Homo sapiens: one gene and its partners. The protein of the gene in region 3 interacts with the protein of the main gene of each other region in a pairwise test. Each region holds a gene or a part of one and is shown on either strand. Other genes may lie near its edges.

Region 1 (3,500 bases), about 62 Mb from region 3:
AAAATAGTTTTTCAAGAATGTCTTTCTTTTTTTTTTTTTTTTTTTTTTTTTCTGAGACAGTGTCTCTCTCTCTCGCCCAGGCTGGAGTGCGATGGCACGATCTCGACTCATTGCAGCCTCCACCTCCCGGGTTCAAGCGATTCTCCTGTCTCAGCCTCCCGAGTAGCTGGGATTACAGGCGCACGTATTTTAGTAGGGACGGGATTTCACTGTGTTGCCCAGGCTGGTCTCGAACTCCTGAGCTCAGGCAGTCTACCCTCAGCCTCCGGAAGTGCTAGGATTACAGGCGTTAGCCACCGTGCCTGGCCTTTTTTTTTTTTCTTTTTTTTTTCAGAGACAGTGTCTCACTCCTTCATCCAGACTGGAGTACAGTGGTGCAATCTCAGCTCACTGCAACCTCTGCCTCTCAGGTTCAAGTAATTCTTGTGCCTCAGCCTCCTGAGTAGCTGTGATTACAGGCATGCACCACTGCACCTGGCGAATATTTGTATTTTAGTAGAGACAGGGGTTTCACTATGTTGGCCAGGCTAGTCTCGAACTCCTGACTTCAAGTGATCTGCCTGCCTCGGCCTCCCAAAGTGCTGGAATTACTACAGGTGTGAGCCCCCACGCCCAGCCAAGAATGTCTTAAAATACTCCCTTTAAGTGTGATTTTGTTGGGAGGGCAGCCCTGTTCCTGCATTTTGGAATTGCTGTACTTACATTTTTGCTTTCTCTAAAGCAGAGTGTGGTTCCCATGTTAAAAAACAAAAGGAAACAAAAAAAGGTAACATGCTTGGAAATGACTTTTGTGGTAGTTACTTTATATGTAAAAATCTAGAAGGTGCCTAATCTTAAACTGAGTAAGGCATTTACTTAGAATTAAAGATAATTTACCCAGCCTGGGCAACATGGCAAGACCTCGTTTCTACAAAAAATAAAAAAACTAGGCCAGGCGCAGTGGCTCACGCCTGTAATCCCGGCACTTTGGGAGGCTGAGGCGGGTGGATCACCTGAGGTCAGGAGTTAGAGACCAGCCTGGCCAATATGGTAAAACCCCATCTCTATTAAAAATACAAAATCAGCTGGGTGTGGTGGCCTGCATCTGTAATCCCAGCTACTTGGGAGGCTGAGGTAGGAGAATTGCTTGAACCTGGGAGGCAGAGGTTGTAGTGAGCCAAGATCGTGCCATTGCACTCCAGCCTGGGCAAAAAAGAGCGAAACTCCATCTCAAAAAAAATAAAAATAAAAAATTAGCTGAGTGTGATGGCATGCACCTGTGGCCCCAGCTACTCAGGAGGCAGAGACGCAAAGGTGGGAGAATTGCTAGAGCCCAGAAGGTGGAAGGTTGAGGCTGCAGTGAAAAGAAAATTTACTACAAAGTTTAAGATTTAAAGTCAGTGGTCTCCCTTTTTCCTGCATCCTCCAATTGAAGTTCAGTTTTTACTTTCTTAGTTGCAAAAATTAGAGACAGGAAACAATGAAACAAGCTTGTGATCTGAAGAATTTGACTTGTATCTAGTAGCTTCAGCATGTTCACGGGTCATAGGAGGTTATGGTCCCAGTGAAAGTTACATTCTTGGCCAGAAAAATCCCTTCAGGAGGTTCTTTTTCCCACATTGGATTGTTCACCCCAAACAGCTGTGAATTCTGGTTTGCAAAAGGAAGTCCAGGCTATTTCTGCCCTAGTCTTTCATAGGGAAAGTAAATTACTGGGTTTTTAGCCCAGAAACACTAAGGAAACCCCAGAAGTAGACAGTGGAGAGTTTGTTCTTAGAAAAATCAGGCTCTCCTGTGGGTAGGAACTTGGTCTCTTTTTTGGAGAGCTCTCAGAAAATATTTCCCACACTGATTTCCAAAGGATTATTGGGAGATTTTCTGTGGTAGAGAAAATTATATCGTATAATATGTTACATTCATAGAACATCTTCACATAACTTTGGTGTGGTTAGAGTTAATGGTAGTAATACTGGAAATTATATGGTATGTCTTCATATTTATCCTTTCTCAGTAATTTGTAGATCAAGTTTGTTTAGTTTACAAATCAAAAAAGAGTTTTTAAAACAAGTCAGTTGTCTCTGCTTTGAAACAAGATAGTTGTATCTGTTTGTGATATTATTACCACTGATCCAGGAAGCAGAACTGCCTCCTGGCCTACTTAAGTGGTGAGGACATACTATGGTGGCTAAGGATCAGGTTCTGACCCAACTCTGCCTTGTGACTTAGGCAAATTAAGTCACTTTTCTGCGCCTCTGTGTCTTCATATATATAATGGGCCTGGGATGGTGCCTATCTTCTAAAGCAGCATTAAATGAGCTAAAGGATGTAAGGCATATAATGCCTGGCACATGGCAAGGGTTTGGTAACCCTCAGCTGCTAGAATCATCTAATGGGAGCCAGGTGCTTGCCACCCTTGATGAATCAGAGTGAGGACCCTGTTAAGGACATATCTTTTATTGATGTTGCCATTTTAACATTTATAATAATTCACAGCAGAAGCTCCCAACCTTTTAAACTATGAAGAGTCCCATAGTTTTAAAAAGCCTGAAAATTGGCAATGGTGGCAAAGTTACAAAGCAATCCAGGTCCACAATCCTTTGTTTGAAACCTTGGGGCCAGATATGTTTTCAGGGTGCTGACTCAATATTGTATATTGAGTCCCTAGTGGGACTGTGGCAGCACCCTGGAAACATTGTATTTCTACAGCAAAACCTGTAAATATTGACTAAATGGGATAAATATGAAGCCGCTTCATATCAGCGTAGGTCAGGTTTTGCAGCTAAATGACTGCTGCTAACTTATGAAAATATATTTTCAGAGCTTTTTGGATTTCTGAATTGTTGATAAGGGACTGTAAACCTCTGCCTTTATGGTAGAAAAATTGCAAGACAAAGAAATGCACTAAGAAGAAAATAAAATCAGTTATAATTTTACCACCTACAGAAATTAACTTGAAATTTTGGTGTACAATCTTGTTTTTTTCTGTGCAAACTTTTTTTTTTAACAGAAATGACATTATTTTGTATATACTTTGTCTCATGTTTTCACGAACTATATTGTGAAAACACTTTCCTATATTTTCTGTCCTCCTCAACCTCATTTTAAATGGATGTGATATCCGTGGTATATATGAATTGTAATTAATTTAACCCCTTTCCTGACATGGAACATGAGTTTGTTTTTCGTTTTTTGCTATTAGAACAGCTCTGTGATGAACATGCATGTGGATAAGTTTGTGTGTACATTCTGCTTATAACATTTGATATATTCAATAGAATGGTAGGTGTAGTTTCAACATTCAGCCATTGCAGAAATCAACAGCTGAATATTCAAATTGCACCTCAAAATCAACAAGAAACATACATGTTGTTGAATTTGAGGACTCATAGTAATTCTGAGGCCCCTTACATCTCCTGGGTCCTTCTGACTGGGAAGTAATATACTGATTTATGGTTGCTAAATACTACTTATATTCAGAAAGTAACCTTTGTGCAAGCCCAGGACTTTTTAATGGTTAACTT
Region 2 (3,522 bases), on a different chromosome or scaffold from region 3:
AAAGTCAGGGTTCTGGCATCGCGGGTTCCCCGTCACGATCTTGCGCTTCCGTAGCCAGCCTCCTAGCCAGGCCAGCTGGCAGTTGCAGTTGAAAGGGTTGGCCAGGAGATTCCTGGAAGAGGCAGGCCAGGCGGCCATGGAGACACTCTGCCCCTCTCAGAGGTCCCAGCAAACCCCTCCTGTACCACGGACACAGGGCCACATGGCCACATGGCACTGTCTCCCAGACCACCACCCATCACCAAGAGGACCGGCTCTGAGGACCGGAGGGAGACTTCGAAATGTGGAACCCACGTTTCAGCAAACCACGAAGACCCAGCACCCCCAGGGTGAGCTCTTTCAAAGTGGCTGGCCGAGACGGTTGGGACGGTTGCTCCAGAGCCCCCGCCCGCCTGTCCTGGAGGCCGGACTCACAGTGTGGAGAGGGACTGGAGGGTGTCGAAGGCTCCTGGGGATACGGTGGTGATCTGGTTGTCGTAGAGCGAGAGGAGCCGGACGTTGCGCAGGCCCGTGAAGCTGTCGTTGTGGATGCAGCTGATGCGGTTGTTCCGCAGCATTCTGGGGAGGAACGGGGGAGGGAGGAGGGGACCCTTGCTGCCCTGCCAGCCATCCACCTGGGCCACGCAGCTTCCGCCATCGTGGCTCGTTCACAGTTCTCCTCCATAGGCTGCGAGCCGCAGAGCCAGGAACACGCACCAGCCAGGCCCCGGCCAGGTGAGGCGAGTTTTACACACCTGTGCCCACTCCAGACCCGCCCCCGCCTCTGAGAAGCCTCGAGGCTCTGTCTCTCTCTCCCTGCCACTGCCCTGTCCCCCATGCTGGCCTTGCCTCCGTGCCCTGGGTGCCCAGAGTTCCTGCCCGTCTTTAGGCCATGCTCCACATCAGTGCCCAGGAGACTTCCTGAAACCTAATCCATCATGTCACTCTCCAGCTTAAAGTCCACTAACAGCCTCCAAACTGCCCACCGAGTCATGCTCGAACTCCTTACTGTGACCTGAGACCATGTCTACCCAGACCCGGACCATCTCAGCCCTGGCACCTGCCTGCCTCCCTAGAGATGGACCAGCCCTCAGCCTGCTACACCGCTGTGACAGTTTTCTAGAATACTCTTTTGCCTCATCTACATCTGGAAAAGCTGCTGTTCATCTTCAAAAACCCAGCCCAAGCCTGATGCAGTGGCTCATGCCTGTAAAAACAGCACTTTGGGAGGCCAAGGATTATTTGAAACCAGGGGTTTGAGACCAGCCTGGGCAACATAGCGAGACCTTGTCTCTACAAAAAAATTTAAAACTTAGCCAGGCATGGTGGTGTGCACTTGTAGTCCCAGCTGCTTGGGAGGCTGAGGTGGGAGGATCTCTTGAGCCCAGGAGTTCAAGGTTACAGTAAGCTATGATGGCACTACTGCACCCCAGCTGCCTGGGAGACAGAGTGAGACCCTGTCTCCCTAAACAACAACAACAATAACAACAAAAACCCAGCTCAATTTCACTTGCCAACCAAAAGTAAAAACAAAAACCAAGTCAACACAGGGTAGCCAACTCACAAAAGAAATTAAAATGGTTTATCAACATTCACAAAAATGTTCAATGTTACTACTAATCAAAGACACTTATGCAATATTGATTTTTTGCCTGCCAAATTAAAAAAGAATGAAAAATATAATAATAATAATAATGACATCCAGGATCTCTGAGAGTGTGAGTGACTGGGCACTTCCACACACTGGCAGGAGATGCCTTTATACCTCCCTGGAAGTGCATTTGGTGAGATGTAGCAAAATCCCCAAAATGACACTTTGTGTTTTCACCCGACTACTCCATCTTTAGGAATTCCTAACAAGAGTATTATCATGCATTATACGTGAACTTCACAATAAAGATATTGTCACAGAATGAATGTGATCCCCTCCAATCCCTATGTTGAAGTCCTAATCCCCAGTGTGATGGGATCAGGATGGGGGTTCTTTGGGAGGTAATGAGGTCATAAGGGTGGAGCCCTCATGAATGGAGTTAGTGCCCTTATCAAGGAGATCCCAGAGAGCTCTCTTGCCCTCTTTCTACCATGTGAGGACACAATGAGAAGTCAGAAGTCTGCAACCCAGAAGAGGGCCCTCGCCAGAACCCATCCATGCTGGCACCCTGGTCTCAGACTTCCAGCCTCCAGAACTTCTGTTGTCTATAAACCTCCAGTCTGTGGCTCTTTGTTATAGCAGCCTGAACCCACTAAGGCAGGTATCAATACAACATTGCTTATAAAAAAAAAAAAATAGAAACAGCCTACATTGCCAATAATTATATAATACCTAGTCATTCAAACTGATGCAGAGCACTTTTTTTGTATTAGGAATTAAATGTGGAATGGAAAAAAATTTTAATATGTAATGGTGCTCATATTAAGTTTAAGGAAAAAGCAGGTTACTAAATAAAATGTACGAGTCCATTAGAATATTTCTGTATGCGTGCATGCTTGTATGTATGTATGTGTGTATATGTATGTGTATGCAGGTTTAGAGATATGTAAAAGACTGGAAAGACAGTTGTTTATACCAACAATTAACAGTGGTCATTTCTGGATAGTGATGGGGTATGGGCCCTTCTCTTTTCCTCTGTCCTTATCTAAGTCTTCCTTGGAAAGAATGCAGCTGACTGGACAGCCCCCACACCCACATTTAAGGAATACTAGGTAAGCATAAAGAAAAATGAGGCAGCCTATAGGAACAGCCTGGAAAGAAGGCAATGCTGTATTCACAGGTGAAAACAGCAAGCTGCAAAACATAGTGCATAATAAAATTTGCTTTTTGTAAAATAAAGGAACAAAAATCCACAGGGAGTCCTGTCACACATTCATTTACTTGCTCAGAGACAACTCTACATCCTGCTGCAGATTTGGGACTTATACCTGGGCAAGTGGCTTCCTAGAGCTGTGGTGTCCAATATAGTAGCCACTAGCCACATGTAGCTATTTAGATTTAAATGCATTAAAATAAAATGAAATTCAAAATTCAGTCACTGAGTAGCACTAGCCACATTTCAACTGCTCCACAGCCACATGAAGTGACTGGTCTGGACAGCGTAGACTTGAAACATTTCCATCTCTGTGGGAGATCCGACAGACTGCCCTGTCTATGGGACACGATACACACCCTCAGGATCATCTGAAGAGCCAGCCCTCCTGGGGCAGATGGAGGGGGTGTCCTGCATCATGGAGGAGCAGATGACCCCAGGATCCCACTGAGCTCCAGATTCTGGTCAGCTCAGGCTGGGCTGTGGGTTATGGGATCCTAGCATCTCAGGGACAGTGCAGCATCCCTGCTCCCCTATCTACACCCACTGAATCACCTTGGCAAGGTCATCCAGCCCCTCCTGCCTGCAGCAGTGCCAGCCACTCCTGAACTCATGCTGTGCTCTTGCAGCCTGACCAGAGGGCAATGGGAAGGGACCCCTAGAAGGGTCCACATGTCTCCATCCCTTGAGGCCAACTGGGCATTGGCCCCATGCCCCAGGGTACAAGAGAACAGGTCTC
Region 3 (3,522 bases):
GAGCGGATCTTGAGGTCAGGAGATTGAGACCATCCTGGCCAACACGGTAAAATCCCATATCTACTAAAAATACAAAAATTAGCCAGGCACGGTGGCATGAGCCTGTAGTCCCAGCTACTCAGGAGGCTGAGGCAGGAGAATGGCTTGAACCCGGGAAGTAGAGGTTGCAGTGAGCCGAGATCACACCACAGCACTCCAGCCTGGGCAATAGAGCAGGACTCTGTCTCAAAAAACAAAACAAAACAAAAAATTAAGAAATATGGTCTATATTGTAAGGCATTTTCTGTGGATCCAGGCCTGTTATGTAATTAGGACTGGGGTGGGAGAAGGACCGTCTTGTCTTATATTTAGACTTCTGATCTGATCACTAAATAAGTTACAGGTATTTTGATGTTGTCATGTTTAAAGTGTCATTTAAAATAAACAATTGAAATATTATCAATTTGGTAATCCCTTTTGTGGTTTTATATGTTTTATATATTCATTTTATAATACACTAAAAGCCTCACAAAATGGCAGTAGACTGCAGTTCCTAACCCCTGAGGGGCCGTGTTTCATGATGCTATTATACACATCTAAAACTAAAATAAATATTAATGAAAACGACGTTTTCCATATTAAGTGAAGAGAGTTAAAGGTACATATTTTATTTCTATAAAGTGACAAACACTTGATCGCTGTAAATGTGAATACAACTTTTATTTTTAAACCTTTCAAGGGAATTAGATCTATTTTCCTGCTGTTTCCAAGCCTTCGGTAACCCTCTGAGTGTGTTTGTATTCACTAGGAAGGAACATTTCTGTGGAATTAATCAAATGGAGAATTCAATGTTCCTTTTAGATAATTTTGGCCATGTTCCATTGCGAACTTTCTAGTCTGCATTTCATCTCTTTCCTGGGAAAAGACCCACATATTCCAAATCCTCTGCCTTTTCTCTACTTGTTAGTGAAGAACAATATAGCAAAACTGCTATGTACAGAATTAATAATCATGTGCATTCAGCAAGGCTCTCTGCTGGGAATTTCATCACTAGAATAAGGCAAAACGCATGAGAATAAGAGTTCAAATGTAGTCAGTACAAACTAGTATCAAAAACTCTGTTGTATTATCGTTAATTGCTCCTCTGATTTTGCTAAAATTAAAAGAAAAATTATGTGGGGGGAGAATTAGAAAATATTCAAAGCTCCTAATATATTCCAGTAAACCCTGAGATGACAAATCTCATTTTCCAAGGAAAAGCAGTGCTAATTTTTTTTTGTAACAACAAAGAATTCATGTTCAATGCCTAATTAAAACCTGGAAATCTATATGCGTTGTTTCTTTTTTTTTTTTTTTTTTTTTTTTTTTTTTTTTTTTTTGAGACGGAGTCTGGCTCTGTCGCCCAGGCTGGAGTGCAGTGGCACAATCTCGGCTCACTGCAAGCTCCGCCTCCCGGGTTCACGCCATTCTTCTGCCTCAGCCTCCCGAGTAGCTGGGACTACAGGCTGTGCATTGTTTCTTAATGGCTTTCCAAATTTACAAAACAATCAGAGTCCTTATCTATCACTGGCTTTATGTTTCATATCAGCTTTTTTATTCATCTTACAGAATGCATTTTGCCTTGCAGATGAATTCTAGCTATTTTATCCATAGCTATAATGGAATAGCTGCTGCTATTATTTATGCTCTATACATGTTACTTTGGCCCTAAAGCCTGAAGGAACCCATTGTTGTTTTCTACCACTGATGATTTTATCTGCACTTCTGCATCTGGGCAATTGTTCACAATAGTCACAAAGACCTAGCACTTGGTCTGAGAATCCTACCTGCTGAGGAGTTTTATTTGGCCAGTTTGGTAAAGGACATTTAAATGAAGATATCTAAAGCTAGCAGAAAACAGAGATTTTGGAGTCATCAGCACATTTGGGATGGTGGAAGCCACAGCCAAGGAGGGGATGTAGTACACGAAGACCTCAGGGTAAATGTGCAGAGCCCTTATTAGGTATTCAGTAAAGACTTGAGGAGTAAAAGAATGAACTAGAAAATGACAATGTACTGATTATTAATTTATATTTGAGTAAAAAAGACTGTTATTTCCATCAAAATCTGCCTCTAGAATTTTCCAGCAAGAAAGTAAGTGATGATAGTTATTAAAAGCCCTAGCAACAGTTTATATCCTTGAGGTAAAACCATCCTGTTTCAACAGATACCATATTCTCATTGAATTCCACATTAGCTTATGATAAACACAAGATGTTTTTCATAATCTAGATGCAGGTTTTATGCATTTTTTTTTAGCAAAACATACAGGGAACTGCCAAGATGGGAGAGTAATCTTTCCTAAATCACTCCAAATGTCACCATGACTATAAGCATACTTTCCTAAATTGGGGGATTTTTGCTTAAGAAAATATAAGTTCATTCAAATGCTTCACTCACATTATATTAAGGTTTCATCATTTATCCTATAAACAAAATTCTGCTTTTATATACATTAATCACTTTGTCATTCATAGGATCAAACCAAAATGACAACTGCTCACTTTTACTGTCAATACTGCACAGCATCACTTCTTGGGAAGAAATATGTACTAAAGGATGACAGTCCATACTGTGTTACATGTTATGATCGTGTATTTTCTAACTATTGCGAGGAATGCAAAAAACCAATTGAATCTGATTCTAAGGTAAGTCTCACCTCAATTTACAGAATTACTGCCTATGAACAGCAAACAAGTGGGTTGGAGTGCCTCTTTTCATTTAGTGTTGACTTTCAACACTATTTCTCTGCTACTGGATATATAAGGATCTTAAAAGTTACCAGCAGTCAAGCTCCAGCCACTACACTTAGCACTATGAAATACAACATATGCTTAATCCTCACATGATCTTCTAAGGTAGCTGAGAATGCTAAAGATTAAAGGGGTTAAGCTATTTGTCCAAAGTTACACAGCTAGAATTTTCCTGCTGTTTCCAAGCTCTCAGTAACCTTCTGGGTGTGTTTGTTATTTCTGGAATGACAAGGGTATAAATAAATGCATAAAGAATTGAAGTTGAAAGGATTCAAAATCTGTTTTCTGATGTAAAATCAGCTTCATTTCTTACTAAACCCTATTGATACCTCTCACACCTACCACCCCTTCCTCCGACATGCTTATTCTTTCTTTCTTTCTTTCTTTCTTCTTTTCTTCCTTCCATCCTCCGATTATTTTCCTCTCTCTTTCTCTCTCTCTCTCTCTCTCTCTCTGTCTCTTTCTTCCCTCTTTCTGCCTTTGTTTTACTTAGGTGATGTTATTTTTTGTCTGTTTAGTTACATCTCAAAGAGTAATAGAACATTGCACCCTAAAATTTTTAAAAATCATTCCATGAAAAACCTCTATTATAGTTTATAAAAAGAATATAGGCAAATTTTGAAGACACAGCAGAGAATGTATTTGTTTTTTCCCAGCTGCCTTAAGTGACCCACCAAGAAAGCCCTGGGCTCTAGCTCTTAATTACCCCAGAGAGTCTCCTCTCTATGGGTAACAGTTTCAGTAACAACTT
Region 4 (3,522 bases), on a different chromosome or scaffold from region 3:
TCCACATGGTTGAACTAATTTACACTCCCACCAACAGTGTAAAAGTGTTCCTGTTTCTCCACAGTGTCTCCAGCATCTGTTGCTTGCTGACTTTTTCATGATCGCCATTCTAACTGGCTTTAAAGGATTAATTTTTAATATCATCTCTGCTGCCTAAACAGAGGGCTTGGATTTTGGAGACATCACAGCACATCTTGATTCTTTCTTTTATAAACAGGAATCTGTCTTCCTGACCTGAGTATTATCTCCATGATGAAGCAAAGGACAGAGCCCTGGACTGTGGAGAATGAAATGAAAGTAGCAAAAAATCCAGATAGGTGGGAAGGTATCAAAGATATCAACACAGGTAAGAGCTCAGATGGACAGAGTGAAAGCCACACTTTTTTTTTTTTTTTTGAGACAGTCTCTGTTCCCCACACTGGAGTGCATTGGCCATCATAGCTCACTGCAGCTTTGAACTCCTGGGCTTCAACAGTCCTCCTGCTTTGGCCTCCCAAAGTGATGTGATTATAGGCATGTGCCCCTTGCCTACCAGAGCCACACTATTAAATCGTGTTTATAAGTGGGAGAATTGTGTGGAGAAATAAGAGTTTAAAACCTGTGAGTTCTTAAGAGAAATCTTTCTTTACCCCCACCTGTCACCATGTCCTTTATGTATGTATGTATGTATTTATTCATTTATTTATTTTGAGATGGAGTCTTGCTCTGTCTCCAGGCTGGAGTGCAATGGCGTGATCTCAGCTCACTGCAACCTCCGCCTCCCGGGTACAAGTGAGTCCCCTGCCTCAACCTCCCAAGTAGCTGGGATTACAGGCGTGCGCCACCACGCCCAGCTAATTTTTGTATTTTTAGTACAGACGAGGTTTCACCTTGTTAGCCAGGATGGTCTCAATCTCTTGACCTCGTGATCCGCCCGCCTTGGCCTCCGAAAGTGCTGGGATTATGGTGTCAGCCACCGCGCCCAGCCCACGCTGTCGTTTAGATGTGTAATAGTTTTATGTTTTTGCCCTGCAGTGTTACTGCAGCCCAAACAGAGGCAAAAGCAAAGGCTTTTATCATGATGGACAATACCCTGTCATGTGGCTTCTGTCAACTCTTTAGTCCTTGATTCTGAGGGTCACAGAGAGCGCTGCTTCAAAGGAGTCCCTTTTCCCTGTGGTCTCTTCCTGTATGGGATTTTATCTGATGCTCAGTTCTCTGTCCTTATACATCAGAGCTGAGGTCTGCATAGACCTGCCTCCTTGACCTATTCATGATCTGCCCATTTCCTGTACTGGGAAGACCTGATGGGGAGATGGGAAAACACAGGCTGCTGTCTTTTGCATCTGGGTCCTGGAAACTGCATGGAGCTGTTTCAAGCCCTCTTTGCCTGTTCAGTTCTGTTTGAGGTGGGAAAAAGTCAGTGATTTTCCTACTCTCACATGCTACTTGGCACAGAATGCTTCATTTCTGGTCACCAAAATGTGTGGAGATTTCTCCCCACCAGCAACCAGTTTTGGGGTTTCCTGCAATTCATTGGTGACACTATCTACCTGAGTTAGAGTCGCGTCCCACAGGCTAAGGGTTGAGTTCCCAAGCCTGTCCGCCACCAATTGCCAGTAGCGGGTTGTCACCTTTCCATCTGACCAACCAGCCACAAGTCAGGGTTCCCTCGACCCCCTTCTTCTGTTTGGTTACTTTGCTAGGGTGGCTTACAGAACTCAGTGAAACACTTCGTTATGTTTATTGGTTCATGAGGAAGGATGTTTCCAAGGATACAGATGGACAGCCAGATGAGGAGATTCACAAGGCGAGGCACATGGGAAGATTCACTGGGTGTGCCGCCCTTGAGGCCCACCGCACGTGTTCAGCATGTGGAAGCTCTCAGGAACTTTTATGGAGGCTTCATTACTTAGGCATGATTGGTATTAACTCAGTCTCCAGCCCCTGTACCCTTCCTGGAGGATGGTGGTTGGTGCTGACAATTCTGTGCTTCTAACCATGGCCTGGTCTTTCTGGGCTTTCTATACCTGCAGATATAGAAACCATGGATATGAAGGCCAATAGTAAGGGACTTGAGCATCACACATTTTGGTATCTCAGGGTTTTTTAGCACAAAACTCGCAAACCATGTTTTTCCTCTGCTCTCACACCACCACGACAATTATCAACACAGAAGAAGACTTCTCTGACCAAAGGTGTGGGGGGTTTTCCCCATACACCAAGCAGCAGACAGCAGCTGGGTGTCCTCCAACTCACTTCCAACACTGTATCTGGAGATAGGGCCAGGTCCCACAGGTTTAGGGCTCAGTCTCCAAGACTTGCCCCCCTTCCCACCAGTTGCAAGTCTGGGTCTCCAAACTTCTGACCAACTGGCTTCCAGTTGAGGTTTCCACAATCCCATCTTTGGGCCCAATTAGTTTGCTAGAGCAGCTCACAGAAGTCACAGAAACACTCAGGTTTACCGGTTTATTATGAAGGATATTGCAAGGGTACAGATGAAGAGACATGTGGGACAGGTATGGGGGAAGGACTGTGGAGCTTCCAAGCCCTCCCTGGGCGTGCCACTCTCCAGGAAGCCGCCATGTGTTCAGACATCCTGAAGCTCTTGGAACCCAGTCCTCTTGGGTTTTCATGGAAGCTTTGTGACATCAGCATTCCTTCCCCCAGGGTATACAGCAGGAACCTCTCTGGGGAGGTCTTAAGACCCGCAATCAGAAAGGTAGGGGGAAAGTTAGAGTCCTGCCTTAGGGCAGGTGAAAGAAGAGGAGGAGAAGGTTGGAGAGGTTATTTTTCTTAAGGTCTGCAGAGAAGGTCTAACCCAACATTATACCCAAAGACTGTAGCAAGGGCTATGGGAGTTATGAGCCAGGAACTGTGGACAAAAACCAAGGTATATGTGTATCATAACACCACACAGAGGAGCCTGGAACGTGTCCTCCCTGGATACCAAGGGAGGGATTCTGAATCGAAATAATGGATGTGCACCCAGTCAGTAATCAATGAAAGAGAGTTAATAAGCACAAGTGGGTACCACTGCATTTAAATGATATAAGACCAGAGAGTCAAGAAAGACCTGGATCCCGGAAGAGCTCAATTAAAAAAAAAAAAAGAAAGAAAGAAAGAATCCAAGTGGGCTTTTCCCCCCTAATTATAAAGGAAAAGCCTTCATTCTTTCAATATTGAGTATGATGTTACCTTTCGGCTTTTTATATATGGACTCTATTATGTTAAGTAAGTTCCTCGTATTCCTAGTGTGTTGAGTGTTTTTCTTTCTTTTTTTTTTTTTTCTTTTGGGGGAGTGTCTCATGCTGTCCTGATCTTGACCTTGGCTCACTGCAGCCTCCACCTCCCAGGCTCAAACAATCCTCTCACCTCAACCACATGCCTGGCTGATTTTTGTATTTTTTGTAGAGGTGGAGTTTCGCTGTGTTAGCCAGGCTGGTCTGGAATTCCTGAGCTCAAGCGATCCTCCCGCCTTGGCCTTCCAAAGTGCTAGGATTACAGGCATGAGCCACCGTGCCTGGCGAGTGTTTTTATCAT
Region 5 (4,117 bases), on a different chromosome or scaffold from region 3:
GGAAAGGGTGGGAGAGATGCATGCACTGGACCCTGGATAGATTCAAGATACCCTTGCTGGGGGAGGGTGGGCTGGCCCGTTAGTTCTAACTCAGTCTTCTCAGTGCCACCTCCAGCCCCTGTGGTCTTTACGGGACCCAACTCTTATCCATCTTCCTTGGTGATGGAGGCATGTCGCCAGCATTAAGATCTCCAGCACAGATGCACGCCCCGGCCTCTTGATATTATTAGTGGCTTCCTGGTTTCTCCCTGCAGCCTCCACACCTCAGGCAGGAAGTGACTTCAGAGCAGCAGGATGCAGGTGGCTCCGGAGAAACTTCATGAAGTCACTGGTTCCTACACAATGAGCAGGAAGGCAAGGGCAGGGAAGGGGACAACGAGGACCATTTAAAATGTCTGGTGGGAAGGGACAGTGGAATGGTACAGAATCCAAGATGTTATCCAGGAGGAAGAGCTCTCTTCCTCGCTCCCCGAGTCCCCCAAGGCAAGAACCCAGGACACAGCAGGCAGCACAGAGAGGCTTCTTTATTCCAAGGATCTGATGTTGCAAGATCTAACATTTCTACCCCCAGGCATTCTCCACCTGCCCATCCAATCTGCTAAATAGAAATCATGATTCCTTCTTATAGACTCCTCCGCCTTCCCTTCTTCCTTCTTTAATTCTGCAGTGGGGCCATGGGGAGAAAGAGGGAAGAGGGAGAAGAGTAGCTTTCTCACTAGTCCCCAGGCGACAGCCACTAGAACTGACTTATTGTTGAAGTTCTACCCCACAAATTCAAAAGTGCTTCTTACTTTCTACCCTCGTCCCATAATCAGATAAGCCCCAGGGCAACAAGGGGCAGAACTATCAATCAAGGCTTCAGCGCTTCTTCTAACATTTCAGAGACTCCACCCAGCCAAGAGGCAACCCTGTTCCTCACTTTCTACCTACCTGGCCTACACCAGAAACTGCACCCCTCAACCAACCTCTTAATCCTACTTGAAACTTGGTCAACTAGAACAGGCCTTTGGCCTATGGGCTAGTCAATCTTTTACATCTGTAATGCCAACAATAATCCCAACCAAACTACAGCAAACCCAGAATGGAACTCAGCCCCTTTTCTTTTCCTATGGAAGGTTCTAATGCATTCACTGGTTCCAGACAGGAATGCAGGGATGGGAAGACCAGGTCACAGACCCAGCTTTTAAAAGGTAAGGTTACCAAGCACCATCCCTTCTAGAGGAAAAGAAGGTTCTGGCATCTGGACACTTGCCAGAAGATGTCCAAAACCCACTAAAGGAAGAAGGGGCTCAACTCAATAGAGAGAACCCCAGGTAACATTCAAACCCATATGCCTCTGTAGTAAAGGATGGGTTAACACTGTTTACCATCTAATCAAGCTAAAGAGTTTCATGATTCTTCCCTAGGCCATAACATTCATAGAGACTGGGCAGAGTCAGAAAAGGTCACATCATCTCTGATAAGGAATGTCTGATCTCTCCCCCATGGAGCGATCAACTCAGTGCTAAGAACAGGCCCCCGTGGGAGGATGATGGACTCCACTTGAGCCCTGGTGGGTCTCTACCACTATAGATGGATACAGCAGAGCCAAACCCAAGTGACCAGATTAATGGGACATTTTAGATTCTGGACCATCTTGCAGAAAAACCTGCCAGCCTCCACTTGGAGTGATACGGAATCCAGATACAGAATCCCCCACACCCACAGCCTCCAGGAGGCATTTATTATTACTTCCATTTTGGGCTCAACATAATGGTTCCTATCACCCTTGAAGAACAGAGAAATGTCTGTATCCATTTCTAGACTGCTAGAGAACCTACAACATCCAGAATACCAGAGAGGGTTCCTGACCCAATTCCACAATCCCGCATGTTCCCAGAGCTGCCCTAGAACAAATAAAGGTTCCAGACCTAGAATTACAGGGGCAGAACACAGAGAACCCCTTTTTCCATTTTAAACAAACTAACAAGCAAACAAACAGGAGAAAGAACAATTCTAAAGATAAAAGTTATGACAGAAATAATATAAAATACCCAAGCCAAACGAGAGAGCCAAGGGCTAGTAATCTCTGCCAGCAGAGCTGTGATCTCACCTTCTGTGTTTCTGGTCACTTTTAATCACACTTGTGGAAGAGGGGAGTGGGAAATGCAATCGAATGAAGGCCCCGGTGCCACCCAAAGGCCTCAATAAATTATATTTACAGATAAACTGAATGCAATGGGGGCCACAGGTGGAGGGCTATTCCCTTAGGGAGACCAGGACTCCAATCTCTCCCCTTTCCCAGCCCCTAGCTAGCTCTCTCCTCAGAAACAATCTGGCTTGTGGGGAAGAGGTTTTGACCAGCAAAACAGAGGCAGATCTAGCCAGGATCTGCCACCCCTGCTCTCCCCAGTGAGAAATTAAGAGGGTGGCAATTTCTGATACCAAAGTGGCCTGGCACACCCCTATGCCCAAGCCTGATAGGGAAGCAAGGCCTGGGCCTGCAGCTTTCCCACCCGCAGGAAGCAAGTGGGGCCTGGGCCTGCGCTCAGCTAGGGCCCCCCGAGAATGTGGTAGTGCACTTTGGTGTTGGTAGCAGCTCCGTGTTTCTGGCGCAGATGCAGCCGCAGTTGACTCTTGTGCCGGAAATGCAGGCCACAGGGGTCGCACTGTGGGAGGACAGCCAAGTCAGGCCCTGCCCCATCCACAATCACCTTTTAGGTGTTGAGCCGGGCGGCCGTCCAGCTCTCCCAGGTGGGAACTATCCAGCGGAAGATCAGCTCTTTGACTCTCACATCCTCCCAAATCCTCAGGGGTGGCTGAGGGGATAGGCCCCGCCTTATTTAGCAAAGGTTTTCCCACTTCTCAGCTCCTCTCTGAGAAAACAGTGCTCAGCCCAGGAGCATCACTTCTATACCTGCCCATCCTGACTCCCAGCCTCCACCCCTTATTTGCTTGGACTCTTCCGGCCACCGCTCATTTCTAAGAGATCTAGGGACAGCCAGGCCCGCACCTCTCAGAGCCCACCCCTAGGCAAAGGAGAGGTAATTCTAAGGCAGTGGGCAGGCCAGGTTGGGTACCCACGTGGTAAGGCTTCTCTCCGGTGTGGATGCGAACGTGGCTCTTGAGGGTCTGCAGGTGGCGGAAGCGGGTTCCGCAGGTAGGGCAAGGGTAGGGCTTCTCCCCGGTGTGGATCAGCACGTGCGCCCGCAGATGTGCCACCTGGGAGGGAGGAGACTTCAAGTCCTGCCTCTGGGAGGAACAGAACCCTCCCTATTGGCCCACCCCACCTCTTGCAGGTTTGCCTTGGAAGCCACTTGGAGGCTGGCTCCGTACCTGTACAAAGCGCGAGCCGCACGTCTCACACTTATACGGCTTCTCTCCCGAATGGATGCGGCTGTGCGTTTTCAGGTTTGCTGGCCGGTTAAAACGGGCTCCGCAGATTGAGCAGTGGTAAGGCTTTTCCCCTGGAGGCAGAGAACATGGGAGATCAGGGACTTTGCCCTAGGACAGCTGTGGGCTTGAAGGCCAGGGCCCTCTCTTCCCCTACCTGTGTGCACTGTACGATGACTGGCAAGGTTGCCCTTGTAGCGGAACGAAGACCGGCACAGCTGACACTTATAGGGTTTGTCTTCGTCCCCAGGAACCAAGGAGTCCAGCCCCGATGAGCACCCTGCCACAGCCTCACAGTTCTGGCAGCTGAAAAATTCACTTCCTGGGAAGGGGAATGGGTGACGGCAACCATAGTTATTAATGAGGGCTATCTAGGTACTACTGAATCCTCAAACCACACAGTAGCAGGCTTTCTGTTTCCCAATTTATTGTTAAGACTTCTGGGGCTGGTTTGACTTGCTCAAGGCCAAGTAAGAAGATAGTAAGATGAGCCAGATCTGACTGCACATCTGTCTGACTCGAGTACTCAGCTAATCTCCTCTTCAATAGCAGTGGTGGGGGCCAGGTACGGTGGCTCACGACTGTAATCCCAGCACTTTGGGAGGCCGAGGCGGTCGGATCACAAGGTCAAGAGATGGAGACCATCCTGGCCAACATGGTGAAACCTCGTCTCTACTAAAAATACAAAAAGTAGCTGGGTGTGGTGGCACGTGCCTGTAGTCCCAGCTACTCGGGAAGCTGAGGC

The links.
Region 1: the proteins of FHL5 (region 3) and ANKS1A interact in a two-hybrid assay, tested with the Homo sapiens proteins (one large-scale study listed by BioGRID).
Region 2: the proteins of FHL5 (region 3) and SLIT1 interact in binary tests that used the Homo sapiens proteins (3 or more experiments, as listed by UniProt).
Region 4: the proteins of FHL5 (region 3) and ZNF766 interact in binary tests that used the Homo sapiens proteins (3 or more experiments, as listed by UniProt).
Region 5: the proteins of FHL5 (region 3) and BCL6B interact in a two-hybrid assay, tested with the Homo sapiens proteins (one large-scale study listed by BioGRID).

Annotation. Positions count from the first base shown.
Region 1 is NC_000006.12:34,895,755-34,899,254, forward strand, and holds part of ANKS1A (ankyrin repeat and SAM domain-containing protein 1A), read left to right. Parts: intron 1-3,500. UniProt on the Homo sapiens protein: Regulator of different signaling pathways. Regulates EPHA8 receptor tyrosine kinase signaling to control cell migration and neurite retraction.
Region 2 is NC_000010.11:97,042,956-97,046,477, forward strand, and holds part of SLIT1 (slit homolog 1 protein precursor), read right to left. Parts: intron 559-3,522; coding exon 415-558; intron 113-414; coding exon 1-112. UniProt on the Homo sapiens protein: Thought to act as molecular guidance cue in cellular migration, and function appears to be mediated by interaction with roundabout homolog receptors.
Region 3 is NC_000006.12:96,601,107-96,604,628, forward strand, and holds part of FHL5 (four and a half LIM domains protein 5), read left to right. Parts: exon of another isoform or gene 1-46; intron 47-2,495; 5' UTR 2,496-2,507; coding exon 2,508-2,666; intron 2,667-3,522. UniProt on the Homo sapiens protein: May be involved in the regulation of spermatogenesis. Stimulates CREM transcriptional activity in a phosphorylation-independent manner.
Region 4 is NC_000019.10:52,283,068-52,286,589, forward strand, and holds part of ZNF766 (zinc finger protein 766), read left to right. Parts: intron 1-217; coding exon 218-346; intron 347-3,522. UniProt on the Homo sapiens protein: May be involved in transcriptional regulation.
Region 5 is NC_000017.11:7,026,034-7,030,150, reverse strand, and holds the end of BCL6B (B-cell CLL/lymphoma 6 member B protein), read right to left. Parts: intron 3,695-4,117; coding exon 3,530-3,694; intron 3,447-3,529; coding exon 3,316-3,446; intron 3,202-3,315; coding exon 3,064-3,201; intron 2,649-3,063; coding exon 2,532-2,648; 3' UTR 507-2,531; downstream 1-506. UniProt on the Homo sapiens protein: Acts as a sequence-specific transcriptional repressor in association with BCL6. May function in a narrow stage or be related to some events in the early B-cell development.